Linked DNA regions of Homo sapiens: regions 2, 3, 4 and 5 are each reported to be linked to region 1. Evidence: microRNA targets listed by miRTarBase, many of them from high-throughput screens and not tested one by one. Region 1 holds a microRNA gene; each other region holds the end of a gene's coding sequence.
What was found. The annotated mature microRNA hsa-miR-1238-5p reads GUGAGUGGGAGCCCCAGUGUGUG and lies in region 1 at 1,888-1,910, shown strand. An mRNA with a match to its seed (bases 2 to 7 or 8) in the 3' UTR can be bound and repressed. Matches are read on the target gene's strand: a 7mer-m8 pairs with bases 2 to 8, a 7mer-A1 pairs with bases 2 to 7 and ends in A, and an 8mer does both.

Region 2: the mRNA of ZNG1A is a reported target of hsa-miR-1238-5p. The part of its 3' UTR that is shown has no 7-base or 8-base seed match.
Region 3: the mRNA of MRPS18A is a reported target of hsa-miR-1238-5p. Seed matches in the 3' UTR shown: 7mer-m8 at 349-355.
Region 4: miRTarBase lists TBC1D13 as a target of hsa-miR-1238-5p. Seed matches in the 3' UTR shown: 7mer-m8 at 954-960.
Region 5: the mRNA of PNMA2 is a reported target of hsa-miR-1238-5p. Seed matches in the 3' UTR shown: 7mer-m8 at 514-520.

What each region holds. Positions count from the first base shown.
Region 1 is chr19:10,550,235-10,554,425 of GRCh38, forward strand. MIR1238 (microRNA 1238) reads left to right here and starts at 1,888; the gene lies at 1,888-1,970. ATG4D (autophagy related 4D cysteine peptidase) reads left to right here. Exons shown (of 10, transcript NM_032885.6): 7 at 1,663-1,741; 8 at 1,811-1,887; 9 at 1,971-2,090; 10 at 2,651-3,184. The coding sequence ends at 2,833. KRI1 (KRI1 homolog) reads right to left here. Exons shown (of 19, transcript NM_023008.5): 19 at 2,851-4,047. The coding sequence ends at 3,717. It also overlaps the pseudogene RNU7-140P. RefSeq lists enhancers at 3,846-4,015, 4,036-4,085, 4,116-4,191.
Region 2 is chr9:118,638-121,637 of GRCh38, reverse strand. It overlaps ZNG1A (Zn regulated GTPase metalloprotein activator 1A), which reads left to right. Exons shown (of 15, transcript NM_018491.5): 15 at 65-801. The coding sequence ends at 171. Among named protein-coding and RNA genes, the nearest start is that of FOXD4, 1.7 kb to the right of the region's middle.
Region 3 is chr6:43,669,056-43,672,055 of GRCh38, reverse strand. It overlaps MRPS18A (mitochondrial ribosomal protein S18A), which reads left to right. Exons shown (of 6, transcript NM_018135.4): 6 at 150-854. The coding sequence ends at 294. It overlaps RSPH9 (radial spoke head component 9), which reads right to left. Exons shown (of 5, transcript NM_152732.5): 5 at 1-1,267. The coding sequence ends at 1,107. Among named protein-coding and RNA genes, the nearest start is that of MRPS18A, 17 kb to the left of the region's middle. RefSeq lists an enhancer at 1-563 and a silencer at 1,756-1,995.
Region 4 is chr9:128,807,284-128,810,283 of GRCh38, forward strand. It overlaps TBC1D13 (TBC1 domain family member 13), which reads left to right. Exons shown (of 12, transcript NM_018201.5): 12 at 531-3,000. The coding sequence ends at 596. Among named protein-coding and RNA genes, the nearest start is that of ENDOG, 9.7 kb to the right of the region's middle.
Region 5 is chr8:26,505,248-26,508,247 of GRCh38, forward strand. PNMA2 (PNMA family member 2) reads right to left here. Exons shown (of 3, transcript NM_007257.6): 3 at 1-3,000. The coding sequence ends at 2,414. Among named protein-coding and RNA genes, the nearest start is that of PNMA2, 7.1 kb to the right of the region's middle.

The DNA.
Region 1 (4,191 bases):
CGACCTCAGGTGATCCACCCACCTCGGTCTCCCAAAGCGTTGGGATTACAGGCATGAGCCACTGCACCCAGCCTCTACACAACTTTAAAAAAACAGTAACCCAATGAAGGGCAGATGAGGGTAGCAGCAGAGCCTAGAAAAGCGCCTCTGCAGCCACCAGGCAAATGAGGAGCCAGAGGAGAAGTGCTCCAGGCAAAAGGAACAGCAAGACAGAGACCCTGAGGCTGGAAAGTCCCCTATGTATTTGCATCCGAATAAAAGCCAGTTTTCCCAGTGACCCACAGAGCCCGGCACTATTTGTCCACACCACCTTCTTGATGTCGGGATATCCCCCACCTTGACCTCATATCCTCCTCCCACACTCTGCTGCAGCCACAGGGGCCTCCTCACCTATTTCAGACACTCCCACCTCAGGGCCTTTGCGCTTGCTGCCCCTGCTGCTTGGAGCACTCTTTCAGCAGTGATGCATGTGGCTTTTTTTTTTTTTTTTTTTTTGAGACGGAGTCTTGCTCTGTCACTCAGGCTGGAGTGCAGTGGCATGATCTCAGCTCACTGCAAGCTCCACCTCCTGGGTTCATGCCATTCTCCTGCCTCAGCCTCCCGAGTAGCTGGGACTACAGGCGTCCGCCACCACTCCTGGCTAATTTTTGTATTTTTAATGGAGATGGGGTTTCATTGTGTTAATCAGGATGGTCTCGATCTCCTGACCTCGTGATCCTCCCGCTTCGGCCTCCCAAAGTACTGAGATTATGGACATGAGCCACTGCTTGGCTCCTGTTTTAAAATATTTTTTGCGTGGGGGGTTTTCCAGTGAGAACCAGAAAACCTGAGACAAATTCTAAAAGAGCTGTAATGTTTGACCTCTTTACTTAAAATCACAAGGCTCCCTTCCCTCTTTTATTCTTTTCCATATAGTTATCACCTCTAACACATGAGATAAATCATGTAATTGGCTGGGCGTGGTGGCCCACGCCTGTAATCCCAGCACTTTGGGAGGCAGGTGGATCACCTGAGGTCAGGAGTCCAAGACCAGTCTGGCCAACATGGTGAAACCTCGTCTCTACTAAAAATACAAAAATTAGCTGGGCGTGGTGGCGGGCGCCTGTAATCCCAGCTGCTCGGGAGGCTGAGGCAGGAGAACTGCTTGAACCCAGGAGATGGAGGTTTCGGTGAGCCAAGATCGTGCTACTGCACTCCAGCCTGTAATCCCAGCACTTTAGGAGGCCGAGACGGGCAGATCACCTGAGGTTAGGAGGAGTTCCAGACCAGCCTGGCTAACATGGTGAAACCCCATTTTTACTAAAAATACAAAAAATTAACCCGGGTGTGGTGGCGGGTGCCTGTAATCCCAGCTACTTGAGAAGCTGAGGCAGGAGAATCGCTTGAACTTAGGAGGCGGAGGTTGCGGTGAGCCAATTGGGCCACTGCACTCCAGGCTGGGTGACAGAGTGAGACTCCGTCTCAAAAAAAAAAAAAAAAAAAAAATTCATGTAATCATCTTCCTTGTTAGTCTCTCACACTAGGATGTCAGCTCCTGAGGGCAAGGGTTTTGTGGTCTTGATCACTGCTGCCCTCCAGAGGCTGGGTTCTCACAGAGGAGGTGTTTGCCAAGCGTTTGTTGAGTGGCTGCCTGACAGCACCTGCCTACCCTCCTCCCTGCAGGAACTCCTGCGTTGCGAGCTGTGCCTGGGCATCATGGGTGGGAAACCGCGACACTCACTGTACTTCATTGGCTACCAAGGTAGGCCCACCCCCTCCTCACTCCTCCCACCCCCCACCGCACCCCCACTCACACCTGCACCCCCTGCAGATGACTTCCTGCTGTACCTGGACCCTCACTACTGCCAGCCCACTGTGGATGTCAGCCAGGCCGACTTCCCCCTGGAGGTGAGTGGGAGCCCCAGTGTGTGGTTGGGGCCATGGCGGGTGGGCAGCCCAGCCTCTGAGCCTTCCTCGTCTGTCTGCCCCAGTCCTTCCACTGCACCTCGCCCCGCAAGATGGCCTTTGCCAAGATGGACCCAAGCTGTACCGTGGGCTTCTATGCTGGAGACAGGAAGGAGTTTGAGACACTCTGCTCAGAGCTGACCAGGGTGAGCAAGAGGAAAGCTGGAGTGGGGTGAGGGGGGCGGTTGGGCAGGGCTGGGGGTGAAAGAGGAACAGAGGCCTCGAGTCCAGCAGAGCTGGGGTGCTGCTTCCAGGCTAGGGGTCCTAACCTGGGAAATGTGAAGAATGTCCACCCCTGAAAAGGTGGGAACGCCAAAGCCCACTGTTAAGGCATCATCCCTTGGAGGCAGCTGTATCCAGGGGCTCAAGTGGTGGGAACCCTCCCTGTCTCTTGGCCCTGCTGTCCGACCAGGACTCTACCCTTATGGGGGCGAGAGATGGCCACCAGCCATTCTGGGCACCCACCCTGTGGTCACTGGAAGGGAAACGCAGGTTTTGCAGCAAAAATCCCAGGACTGTCAGTCTTTGGCTGAGCTGGGTCACATGCTCATGGCTGAGCCAATCACTGTGGCCAGGGGATGGAAGGTGCTGATTGGCTGCTCTCTCCTGGAGAGGTGGTCCTGAGAAGCACCTACTAAATAAACCTGGGCTAAGGAATATGGCTTGGCACTGTTTGTGGCTGACCCTGTCTCCCTCTTCCCGCCAGGTCCTCAGCTCCTCCTCAGCCACAGAGCGGTACCCCATGTTCACCCTGGCCGAGGGCCATGCTCAGGACCACAGCCTGGACGACCTCTGCTCCCAGCTCGCCCAGCCCACACTCCGGCTCCCTCGCACAGGGCGGCTCCTCAGGGCCAAACGCCCCAGCTCTGAGGACTTTGTGTTTTTATAAAGGGAGGGGATGAGGGGAAAGATACAACACTATTTATTTTTTTATTTATGTCATGTCGGGTGTGGGATCTTGAGCTCTGGCAGTGATGATGGTACTTCCTGTTGTCAGCCCCTCAAGCCCAGCTGCAACCAGTCTGGGGCCATTCAGCCAGGGACAGAGCCCACAGAGCCCATACACCTGTCTCCCACCAGCGGGGCCCTCCTGGCAGGGTAGGGAAGGAGGACCCCGGGCACCCCCCTCAGGGCCTGACTCACGTACTGTAGTTTGCACTGGACGCCCGGGCCCTCCCTGTCCCAAAGCCCCCTTGGGGGAACTGTGGCTGCTGGGGGCCAATAAAGCTGTGTAACTTGATCGTGGGTGTGGCTGGGCGCAGCGTTCTGAGGGGATGTGGGGTCTGGGAGGTGTCTCGAGGTGAGAGCTCCAAGTCACGGGAAGTTTAAGTCAGCCTCAGTTTCCACATCCATAAAATGGGACGACTTCCTTACCCACAGCTACACGTGTTTTTTAATTTTTTTTTTTTTTTCAAGAGACAGGGTCTTGCTTTGTTGCCCAGGCTGGAGTGCAGTGGTGCAATCATAGCTCTCTGTAGCCTCAAACTCATGGCCTTAAGTGATCTTCCTTCCCCAGCCTCCTGAGTAGCTGGGACTACAGGCATGTGTCACCACATTTTGTAGAGATGGAGTCTCGCTAAGTTGCCCACGCTGGTCTCCAATTCCTGGGCTCAAGTGATCCTTTCACCTCGGCCTCCCAAAGTGCTGGGATTACAGGCGTGCCTGGCCACAGATGAGAGGATCTCTGCAGCAGATAGTACTTGTGGGTGCGAGACCTGTCCAGGGCTTGATTTGAGGAGAGGAGCCTGAGGCCCCTGCCTGCTCCCTGGTGCTCAGGAGCTGTTCTTGGGCCCCTGTTGTTTCCTCCGCTGCCGGCCCAGCTGGCGGAAGTGCAGCCGTTTGGGGTTGAGGCCAAAGGCCTGCAGTCTCTGGCGGCTGAACTCGCATCCACCAAGCATCACAGTGGGGCCCAGCAGCCGTGCCTTCTTGGCCCTCCTCCGCTTCTGGGGGGCTGGCTTCTTGTGGGGTGATACAGGGGCTTCCTCTTCCTGTGCTGGGGGACTCTCCGGCCCCATCAAGCTGCCATCAAGGGCTGGCAGCTGCCTCTGTGGGCCGGCTTCATCTCTCTGTGGCTTCCCTGTGGCTTCCGCAGGTGTCTCTGCCCTGAGGGAGAAAAGTCAGGGCTCAGCCCAGGCCTGTCAAGATCAGGCCCATTCTTGAGCACGCATGCCCCATTTTACAGACAGGGAAAGGAGGGGCATAGTGAAGCAGCCGCACAGCGACCGAGGGCCTGCCTGGGATTCAGAC
Region 2 (3,000 bases), not on the chromosome of region 1:
ATAGGTGAACTGTGTCATTTTAATAAGCATAATGTAATCACGTCATATTTTGTTTTGTTTGCAGGCAGAAATTTAGATAAGGATATCCTTAAACAGCTGTTTATAGCTACTGTGACAGAAACAGAAAAGCAGTGGACAACACGTTTCCAAGAAGATCAAGTTTGTACATAACACTAGAGGCATTTCTTATCAAAAGGATTGGATAATAAAAATAAGTTTCTACTGGGTATATTTCAAGCATTTATTTATTACTTTAGTTACGAATTCCAATATACTTTAAAATGGTATTTGTTTTACAGCATACATAAAATGTAGCAAATCAGTACTGTAAAACATTTAACATTCATACAGTTATATATAATATCCTTTTTTTTAAAGAATGGTATTTCACAAAAATATCTTTTGAAATTGGCTTTGGAGTTTACATATACTGAACATGAAAGTTTATAATAATGATGATACAACTTTCAACATTGTCATTTTTTCTTAGAACTTCAGCTGATTGCAGAGATATAATGATTACATTGTTATTAAATTTTTTTAACACAAGTAAGTGTCACCATTTTATGACATGAAATAAAAGGTTATGACTGTTATTGATGTTGATGTTGACGACCTGATCACCTGGCTGAAGGAGTGTTTGTCAGGTTTCTCCATTGTAAAGTTACTCTTTTCCCCCATTTCATACTGTGCTCTTTGGAAGGAAATCACTATGCACAGCCCACACTAAAGGAATGGGGAGTTGTAGTGTACTTTCTTGGGAGTGGTCTACATGATTAATTGAAATTCTTCTGCAAAGGACAGTTGTCCCTTTCGCTTTATTAGTTCGATCATTTATGTTTATCAGTGTGGACACATGAATATTTTATACTTTGGGTTACAATTTAATACTGCTTTATTTTGTTGCTCAAATTATCCCAGCTTTGACCATTGGGAACTCTTTCCGTTATCTCCTGTTCCCACCTTTGACATACCCCCATCAATGTGGGTTTTGTGTTTTGTTTTTGAGTGCCTCCTTACTTTTCTCCTGTATTTTTAAATAACCCCAATCCCTATTGAAGCTGGCGCTAGGAAAACTAACAATACTCCCTTTCCCAGGTCATCCGATTCCTATGCTGATGGAGGAAATTTGCCTCACATGCTGGGGGCGCTGGGATTTTGTGGTTGAATAAGACACCTGGCCTGGCCCTCCTGGAGCTTAGTTTAGTAGGTCACACAAGCAGTCATTGGTAAATTTGGGATTCAAACAAATCTGTTAGGCTCAAACCTGTCTGTTATTTGTCCTCCAAGCTTCATATAAACTGAGGAGCCTTAAAGGGTAAAAACTTCAGGAGCAGCAAAGTTTCAAAAAAAGATCAGCAAGAAAGCCCTTTTCCAGATTTTATCCTGAAGGCACTAGCTACTTTAAGCTATTTTTTATTATATTTTGCCCTTGCAGTTGGCGTTTGATTTCTCACTGAACATTCATTGTCATAATTATAGACACTATGTGACTATCAAGGGCATAATATTCTTTCATGCTGCATTTTTATTAGATGGCACCTCAAAGTTTTCCCAAGTAGGTGGGTTTTAAATTATGAATATATACCGTGGCATAGTATCTTACTTAGTATTTTAATAAGATCCTTATTTATATAACAAATATTTTTTTTATTCCTCTGTAGTGCTACTTTAGTCTCTGAGCTAATTTTCATGAAGCCAATCTAAAAATCGTGTTACTTCTAAGGATGTGGAGCGAGTGAGATGAACAGTTGTGCTGTCATATTGCCCCTCCCCAGTGCAGACAGTGAATGAGGACCCACTGATTTAAAGGCAACACTGCAGCCCCTTCTTGCCTCATTGAAGTCCCAAGTTTTATTACAGTAAAAGCACTTAATGTTGACATTTCTGAAAGAATGAAGAGGCCGGGCGTGGTGGCTCACGCCGGTAATCCCAGCACTTTGGGAGGCTGAGGCGGGCGGATCATGAGGTCAGGACATCGAGACCATCCTGGCTAACACGGTGAAACCCCGTCTCTACTAAAAATACAAAAAATTAGCCGGGTGCGGTGGCGGGCGCCTGTGGTCCCAGCTACTTGGGAGGCTGAGGCAGGAGAATGGCGTGAACCCGGGAGGCGGAGCTTGCAGGGAGCCGAGATCCCGCCACTGCACTCCAGCCTGGGCGACAGAGCGAGACTCCGCCTCAAAAAAAAAAAAAAAAAAAGGAAAAAAAGAATGAAGAGCCAGAGCCAGGCATAGTGGCACGCCTGTAGTCCCACCTACTCAGGAGGCTGAGGCGGGAGGATCACTTGAGCCCAGGAATTCAAAGCCAGCCTGCGCAACATAGACCCTGTCTCTAAAAATGAATTGGTTATAAAGGATGAAGAAAGGAAGGAGGAAAGGGAGAGAGAGAAGCCCTTATAGAGTGGGTGCATTTCTTGTATGTGGGGCCACTTTGTAAGAACAGGATTTTTCAAACTGGGCCCATACTGGTATGTGTGAAATCAATTTAGTTGGTTATGGCCATTTTTTTTTAAAAGGAAATATCAGTGATCACTATAGTGTAAGTATATTGTTTCGTGAAAGCCATCTTAGTTATGTATTATGTCTGTATGTGTAAGATTGTGATATAAAATGTATTTCTGTGGTTAAATATTCAAAGAAATTGGAGAACCATTGCTACAAGGGGACAGAGGACTCCGTGTGAGCTCTCCTGCCTTCCCTGAATAAACTTACACAATTTAGTGCTGGGACATTTGAACCTTTTCTGAAAATTTGAGTCAGGGAGAGCATCTTGGGGAGGTGGGAAGGAAGGTAGAAGGAGCAAAGCAACACCCCCCTGAAGCCTGGGAATATTGTCAGAACCTTAAATATAATTCAGCTCACCATTCTGGGTAAGGACAGACTCTACCAATGAAAATGGGTGATTACCAGCTGTGAAACACAAAAACATACTTTCACGGTTACACATTCCTTTACAAACAACCGTGTACATTTCAGCCTCCTACCCCACCATTTCTTT
Region 3 (3,000 bases), not on the chromosome of region 1:
AGGAAAATCCCTGCACTTCAGGAAAGGGAAACTGGTGAAAGGATTTGCTTGCCCAACCGTGGCCTGGCCTGAGGAGGTAGTGCTCCACTCTCCCACGTCCAGCTTGGGCCCCCAGCCCTCACAGGCACCTCTTTGTTCTCCCTCCACAGGTACCTGACGCGCTGGGCTCCTGGCTCCGTCAAGCCCATCTACAAAAAAGGCCCCCGCTGGAACAGGGTGCGCATGCCCGTGGGGTCACCCCTTCTGAGGGACAATGTCTGCTACTCAAGAACACCTTGGAAGCTGTATCACTGACAGAGAGCAGTGCTTCCAGAGTTCCTCCTGCACCTGTGCTGGGGAGTAGGAGGCCCACTCACAAGCCCTTGGCCACAACTATACTCCTGTCCCACCCCACCACGATGGCCTGGTCCCTCCAACATGCATGGACAGGGGACAGTGGGACTAACTTCAGTACCCTTGGCCTGCACAGTAGCAATGCTGGGAGCTAGAGGCAGGCAGGGCAGTTGGGTCCCTTGCCAGCTGCTATGGGGCTTAGGCCATGCTCAGTGCTGGGGACAGGAGTTTTGCCCAACGCAGTGTCATAAACTGGGTTCATGGGCTTACCCATTGGGTGTGCGCTCACTGCTTGGGAAGTGCAGGGGGTCCTGGGCACATTGCCAGCTGGGTGCTGAGCATTGAGTCACTGATCTCTTGTGATGGGGCCAATGAGTCAATTGAATTCATGGGCCAAACAGGTCCCATCCTCTTCATGACAGCTGTGAGCTCCTTACTGTGGGAGAGCTGCAGGGAGCCAAGGTGGGCTGCCTGACACACTTGCCGCTCTCGTGTGAATCCAAGAAACTGCGTTCCTCAAAGGGGCCCTGGTTGTCACCTTCTCCCACAGCCATTTCCACCCATCGTTGTCTAGAATCTCTTTCATTAGCACATTCCAACCCCTCTGCCACTTGGTTTAGAAATGAGCTCCCTGGCTCAGTGGGCCTTTCAGAATCTGGAACCAGACGGAGGTGGAGTTAAGAAGATAGGACAGAACAGGCAGGCCAAGTTCACTGAAGCTTAAGAAAATCATGTTTAGACTCTGTTTAAAAACATCCAGGCTGGCTCCCATTCTATAGCATGAAGGGCAAGTCCATGTTCTTCTCGCCAGTGCCCACGTAGACGTAGCCATAGTTCTTGGTGCGGGGAGCATGGTAGAAGGTGAGGCCCGGCCAGAGCAGGCTGCGCAGCACCACCAGGGCATTGCCCCTCTCCATCTGGATGCTCCAGGACCCTGAGATAAGACAGGCAGGAGGTGAGGCCTGGTGCTGCTGGAGCCACAGCTCTGCCCTTCATGCTGTGGCCCCTGGCTCCTTGGGCAGCCAGGCCCAGGTGCTATGGTTCCACTGGGGAGAGACCATTTAATTCTCCAGATGCTTTACTCCCTGATTGTCTTTTAGCCATTATTCTTTTCGTTTTAAGAGACATGGTCTCACTCTGTCACCCAGGCTGGAATGCAGTGGCGCAATCACAACTCAATGCAGTCTTGACTCCTGGGCTCAAGCAATCCTCCCACCTTAGCCTCCAGAGTAGCTGGGACCATGGGCATGCACCACCATACCCAGCTAACTTTTCTGATTTTTTGTAGAGATGGGGCCTCACTGTGTTGCCCAGGCTGGTCTCAAACTCCCGGGCTCAGGCGATCCTCCCACCTTGGCCTCCCAAAGTGCTGGGATTACAGATGTGAGCCACCACGCCCAGCCCTTTTAGCCATCTCACTGCTCATTAAAACCACTTTCAGAGGGAGGGCAAAGGAAATGAAAAGAGGCGAAACTCAAACCAGTCTGTTTTGTTCCTGTCAGCAAGTCTAGCTAAAGGTTGAGTGGGGGAGGAGGCTGAATCCAATCCACAGGCAGAGGGGAGTTGGGCTGGGCCAAGGGAGACACCAGCTCCTCCCACACTATACCTAGTGCAGTCACCAGTTCTAGTGTGGTTTGCCACTACTTGCCATTTTGCTGTGTCTTCCCCATTTCCTGAAGCCTCTCCTGAGTTGGATTAGACCAGACCAGGAAAGGAAGGCTCAAATAGAAATTTGGGCAGTTCAGGCCTCCTAGCTCAATGGCCCTTTCTGGCAGCTGGTAGACTGGGAGCCATCCTTGGTGGGAGGGGACTTGGGCTGCCCCTAATGAGCCTTTGTCCTAGGTTCTGCCCTGGTTTTTGTCTCCCCACACAGGAGCAGCCCAGCTCAGGGCTGAGTCGTGCAGCCATGAGGACTTGGCTGGAAGGGCCTGATTAAGCTCCAGAACCGAGGGAGGGAGCCACAGTGTGGGAGGAAGGAGCCTGGGAAAATCGCCTCTGGATGCAGATCTGGGGCTTCTATTCCCCTGCGCACTGAGGCCTCTCCCGGCCCAGCCACAGCCCTGCTCCAGGCCCTGCCAGAAAGGCAAATGCTTTGAAAGTTTTGGTGTTGGACCAGCCAGCCATGCGCTGAGAGCTTCTCTGAGGCCTTCATCAGCTGCCAGCTCAGCCTGGCTGCTTGGCTCCTGCTGCCCCAGCTTCCCACGGGCCACCTCCAACCATGGTTCACCCTAGTCACTCCACACCCTGCAGCCTCACAACTCAGTGCCCACCCACTGGGGGCCACCCTGCATCCAAGAAACCTGATTGCCAGGAACCCCTGACCCTCATGGCAGCTCATGCACCCTTACTCAGGGTGCAGCCGCCTGCCCAGGTCAAAACCAAAGTTTTCTGGGCGTATATAGTTTGGCTGTCCCTGGTCCTGCTCAGGGAGAAGCCAATCGCAAAGCTCACTTTAGCACCGTGCAGTGGCCAGCACCAAGTGCCATCGCCCATGCAAAGGATGACGTCAGCCCCCTCCAGCCCACACAGTGCCTGCTGGACAACATCAAGAAGAAAGTAGTGCCCCTGTGTTAGCGGGGCTCCGGCTGGAACACTGCCCCTGAGAAGGAGTATTTCCCCTGACTCTTAAAACTTTTCTCTGGGTGCTTGAGGTCCTCTGCCTCTCAG
Region 4 (3,000 bases), not on the chromosome of region 1:
ACCATCTTGGTCAGGCTGGTCTCGAACTCCTGACCTCAGGTGATCCGCCCACCTCAGCCTCCCAAAGTGCTGAGATTACAGGTGTGAGCCACCAAGCCCAGCCTAGAGTTGCTTTTCCCTAACTTCATGGACCAGATCTGGAAAAAGTGCAGAATCACAGTGGCCACTCACAGGGCTGTTGGGACTTCGCGCTGATGCTCAGACACTGGCCCAGTCCTACTGGCTCCACACGAGGGAGCTCGGGTTCAGTGGCAGTAGTGGGAGAGCTGAGGCAGCACGGTCTGGTCCTGAGGAAAGGGCCGCAAGAGCCTGGGAGTGGTTGTGTTTGGATCGTTGAGTTGGTGCTGCATGGTGTAGCGTCAGCTGCATGCAGGGGTCTGGGGGTTGGGGAGTGTGGGATGCCTGGTGTTCTGTGCTCCTGCCCCTGAGGCCCAGGATCCAGCATGGCAACGGGTCCCAGCAGGGAGGGTGTGGGTGTGGCAGGGGTGAAGTGGCTTCAGAGGCAACTGTTGGCCTTTTCCTGTGCCCAGGACTACCCCATCACAGATGTCTGCCAGATCCTGCAGAAAGCCAAGGAGCTCCAAGACTCAAAGTAGCCCGGCGGCAAGAGGCCCATGTTCCGGAGAGAAGCCTCCCGACCCTGTGCCCTGGCTCCCGGGACACATAGAAACCTGTAGGAACCCAGCCTGAGGGGAAGCCACAGGATCGGCCCGAGACCCAGGCCATGCCCACTGGGGACACACTGTGCCGTGCTCCTTCTGCCGCCACGCCCAGCTCCCCACCTGCCCTGCACTCTGCCCTCTTTGCCCAGGATACTGAGGAGGGCTGGAGCTCGGGAAGTTGTCCTTCCTGGGCCAGGGCCGTTTCTGGCACTGGGAGGCTGGCAGGGGCCCCTCCCTGCCTCGGCTCTGCCGCCCCAGCCTCAGTTCCTGCTTCTGGTCTTCTCCTGGGCTCCACTCAGGGGAGGTGCTTGGCCAATGGGCCAGAAACCGCTTCTGAGCGGGGCACTTCGGCTGCTCCACAGGGAAGGCGACACTGAAAGCTGAGTCCTGCCGTCTGTCTCACCCACAGATGTCTGTAGTCGGTCGGTGTGAATGTGGGCCCAAGTCCCCAGGCATCTTCTCCGTGTGTGTGTGTGTGTGTGTGTGTGTGTGTGTGTGTGTGTGTGTGTGTTAGGGAGTGAGGGTCTCTCAGGCCTCCAGGTCTCCCAGCCCCTCCTTCTCTGTCTCTACCTCTCTGCCTGTCTCCTTCCACCTCCTTCCCAGAGTGGGACTGTGTCTTGCTTCATGATTCCTCTCTCCATTACTCTCCCTGCCCTTCTCTGTTGGGGTGCCTTATCCTGAGCCACCTCCTCTCCCCGCTTGCCTCTGCTCCCCTGAACCTGGGAGACAGATGAGGAGACTGGCTCAGCAAGGCCCCTGGAGGTCAAGCTTGGCCTTTGCCTCCTGTTCCCATCCCCCAGCCCTGGCTCCTAGGTCCTCCCAACTGGGAGGGAGTCCTCCGTGCCTCACTTAGAGGGTTCTGAACCCGTTCCCTACACAGAAATCTTGGAAACCAAATGCTGCTGAGTAAGGATGAAGCTTTGAGCCTCCTGCCCCTGCTTTCTGCCCAGGGAGGGAGAAGGAAGAGGGGGAGCTGGTTTTTCTGGAGGTTCCCCCAGAGGCCCTCCTGTCCGAAAAGAAAAGGACCTTGATTCTGAGCCCAGGGTCGGAACCCATTGCTTCAGAAGAGTTGTCATTCCCTCGGCTTCCAGGTCCCAACCCAGGGTTGGGTTGAGTGAGTCCCACAAAGGGCAAGTGGGGCCCGAGGAAGCCTCTCTGGGGCCAGGGGTAGCTGAGCTTAAAGGCCCTGGGTCCTGCCAGTTCCAGGAGGGCCATGTCTGTGCCTCTGTGTACCCCTCCACCCGCTGCGGGCTGAGGGAGGTGCAGGGCCTTCTCTGACCCCTGCCTGAGCTGTTCCCAGGGCTGGAGCAGGTGTACCCTGAGCAGGGGCAGCTGGCCACTCCCAGTTCTCACCAAGTCACCTCCCTCCTTGTACAAGGTTTGCGTCCGGAAGCCGGGTGCCATAGTGAGGACCCTCGTCCTCCAGACTGGCTGGCAGGAGTCAGGCCCCAGCAGCCCTCCTGCCCCCAAAGCTTTCCGAGTCTGGTGGGCAGGACTTCTCGCTGCCCTTCCAAGCCCGGCTTTGGGCCAGGAAAGGCTTCCCCAGGTGGCTCTTCTACCAGGCTTTTCCTTTGATGCCGCCTGGATTTCCGCACCTGCCTGTCTCCTCTCCCAGAGCACAGTATTTGGGAGACTTTGACTATTTATTCAGACTCCTGGCTATGTATTGCACATTGGCAAGTGCTCTGGGGATGAGGCATGGGTATAGGAAGGGAGAAAGGAGTTGGAGACAAGATCCTCTTCATTTTCCAAGATCAAAGTCAGCCTCTTCTCCCCATGCTTCTAGGAACTGCCTGGTTTTCGAGCAGGTCCTGGCTGAGCGGGCTCTGAGTTCTGTACTGGAATTGAGTGTAAAGATGGGAAGAGAACTGGGCTGACTCCAGGACCTCCAGGATGAGGCAGAGGCATGATGCTTCCTGCTCACCTGGGCCACCCTCTCTCCAGGACTTGTCAGCTGGTGGTTCAGCCCCTTCTCCAACCCCTTCATAAGCTTGGGCCACTGCCTGGGACCCAGCAGACACTGCCCAGGACTCTTTAGTGCACTCACTCTTGTCTGCCCCCTACCTTCCCTCCTGGAACCACACTACTTGAATCACCATTACTTTGCCTCGCTGGCAGAGTTGGGTCAAGTGCCCTCTCCTTGACCTTGAGATGAAGGTCAAGAGCACAGGGACCAGGCCTTGGTTAGGCTGAGCTCCCAGCAGGACACCGCCTGCAGAAAGGACCTGCCCTGATAATGTCCCTTCCCCAGATTCTCAAGCAGATGCCCAAGGGAGGTCCCCACAGAGCCAGAGTGCCTGAGGCTTCCTGCTTGAGAACCTGCCCCCTGGATCTTGGA
Region 5 (3,000 bases), not on the chromosome of region 1:
AAAAAGCATTAAGTCATTTGTTCATAACAACCGTGTACTCTCATCTTCTTATTTTTCAGATGTGGAAACTGATGTCTAGAGAAGCTAAGCAATTTGCTTACAGTATGCACAAATCTACCACAAGACTACACATCAACTGTGTTGGAGATTTGCCTAGCACATATAACTAAATGGTGCTCATCTGCACTGCACTCACACACTTACGTGATACACAGGTCTGATCTAAATACACAGGTCTGATCTACACAACCATGTGGTGCTACCGCTTTTAAAATCTGTGAACAATTAAAAGAAGTTTGGATACGTACACAGATACCATAAAGGAAACTTTGCTCTAAGGTCTGCACAAAATGAGCCAATCTGAAAATAAAAGTAAACCTGGTGGTGAATGCTGATGTGTTAAAATTTGGTTATCAGCCCATTTGAATCTAGCTGCATTTACTAGAGACTTAAAGAGTTTAGCCCAGGCATGGTGGCTCACACCTGTAATCCCAGCACTTTGGGAGGCCGAGGTGAGTGGATCACTTGAGGTCAGGAGTTCGAGACCAGCCTGGCCAACATGGTGAAACCCCATTTCTACTAAAAATACAAAAATTAGCTGGGCGTGGTGGTGGGTGCCTGTAATCCCAGCTACTCGGGAGGCTGAGGCACGAAATCGCTTGAACCTGGGAGGCGGAGGTTGCAGTGAGCTGAGATTGCACCACTGCACTCCAGCCTGGGTGATAGAGCAAGACTCAGTCTCAAAATAATACTAATAATAATTAAAAAAATAAAGAGTTTAAAACACATTTTGGAGATGGCACTGCTAGAAAATCTGCAGAACTGCAGAGCACAATTTGAAAGTCATCGTGATGGTAGAGGATGGACTAGTGTGAGTCAGAAAGTTCTGGGCTTCTGTCTAGGCTCCATCACTTCTTGGCATTTTGGTGTTGAGGAGACCACTTAACTCATCTGAGCTTCGGTCTTTCTCTTTATAAAGAGCAAAATTATACCACAACAGGGTGGCTGTATACATTCAATGAGATATACATGAAACACTTTGCACACAGTAGGCCCTCAATAAATGTGAGTTCCTTTTCTCTCCTCTTCATCCTTTGTTGCCACTAAAAGCCTTCTCTAAGCAAACCAGCCTGCTCACTAAATCCAAACCTGCCCTAAACAACCCTGCTCTCAAGCATGCAGTCCCCTCATGTCCCCCTTTCTTTGGGGACACCTCTCAGGCTGTGGACCTCTGGAAAGTAAAGCTTAGGTTGAGTCATCTGTGTCTTCAGGGCCTGACACAGCACCTAGCTCTGGGACCATCTATCTGACACCTAGCAGAAAGGCAGGAAGAACACTTCCCAGGTTAAAACAACAACAACAATGACAACAACAACAACAAAAATCTGCAGGCAGAGGTGGTCCTATTCACTGGGTGATGACACTTTTACTGGGGTGATGAACTTATTTACACAAAGGGTTAGTTAGCCTTTTACCTGTCTAGATCAGCTCCTCATCTAGACTGGAACCTCTCTGAGGGCAGGGCCCATTTTGTAGGTTTATAACTGCTCAACTGCAGGTTATAGCTGTAGTCTTGTAACTCCTTGTACAGTGTCTCACAAAGCCAGGCACTCAGAGAGAATTTGCTGATTTGAGAAAGGAAAACACCTGACAAGTCAAACAGCTTTATTTTTCAAACATTACAAAAGGTATTTTTTTTTTTGACTGCCAATTCTTTCTTCTATGGTATGGGCCAATTCTGGTCTATTTGGGATTATTTAAAGAAAATTGGAAGTACAAGTGTTTCAGATTCCTTCAGGCTTACTATTTAATATTTGGAGTTTAATCTTTTGTTCATTAATAATCTACATAGGGTCTAAGAAACTCCTAGATATTTTTTTCTTAAAAAGAAAAATCAAGGGCCAGGCATGGCGGTTCATGCCTGTAATCCCAGCACTTTGGGAGGCCGAGTTGGGCACATCATTTGAGCCTAGGGGTTCCAGACCAGCCTGAGCAACACAGCAAAACCCTGTCTCTACCAAAAATACAAAAGAATAGCTAGGCATGGTGGTGCGTGCCTGTAGTCCCAGGTACTTGGGAGGCTAAGGTGTGAGGATCACCTGAGCCTGAGCCTGGGAAGTCAAGGCTGCAGTGAGCCGAGATTTTTGTGCCACTGCACTCTAGCCTGGGTGATGAGAGTGAGACCCAAGAAATAAAGAAGAAAGAGAAAAAGAAAAAAGGAAGGAAGGAAGGAAAGAGAGGAGAGGAGAGGAGAGAGGAGGAGAGAAGGAGAGAAGGAGGAAGGGAGGGAAGGAAGGAAGGAAGGAAGGTCAATAATTGGCTTTCATGGTTTGATTTCAGTCCCATACATTAAAGAAAAAAATTTTTTAAAGGTCTTAGCCCACTGGCTGTGGGTCCTGCCCCCAGGTGGTTTTCAGTCGTCTCCCTCATGATTCCAGCGGCCATAGCCATCTCGTTCCTCTGGCTCTTCGATACTCTCATTCTCAAAGGAGGCCTCTTCCTCCTCTTCTTCCCGTATTACCTTCATTAGCTCAAGGAAGCTGGGGGGCGGGCCCTGATCCTTCAGCTCCCTAAGCCGGCACCACAGCATCTGGTTAAGAGTGGCCCCAGCCATGACCTGCTCCAGGCGGACCTGGTCCGCAATACGCCGAGGGATGGCGCGTTTCTCCACCGCTCTCCGGAGCAGGGTTTCTAGCCGTAACACATAGGCTGAGACCTTCTCTCCTTCCTCCTGATAGGTCTTCAGATACCTCACCTGGGCTGTCCTGCGGCTCTCTAGGCTCCCAAACACTTGCTTAAAGGCCTCCAAACACTCTTCTACACTGATGGACGGGTTGTCTGCCTGCACTATGTGCATGAGGTCCAGGGCAGGGCCCCGCAGGCTTTCCGCCAGCCACCTTTTCTTTTCTGCCTCTGTTACTGGCCACTCTTTGACTATCTCCGTGGCCTGTTCCAACCAGACCTCAAAGGACTCTTCCTCTGGGGCTGGGACAGCACTCC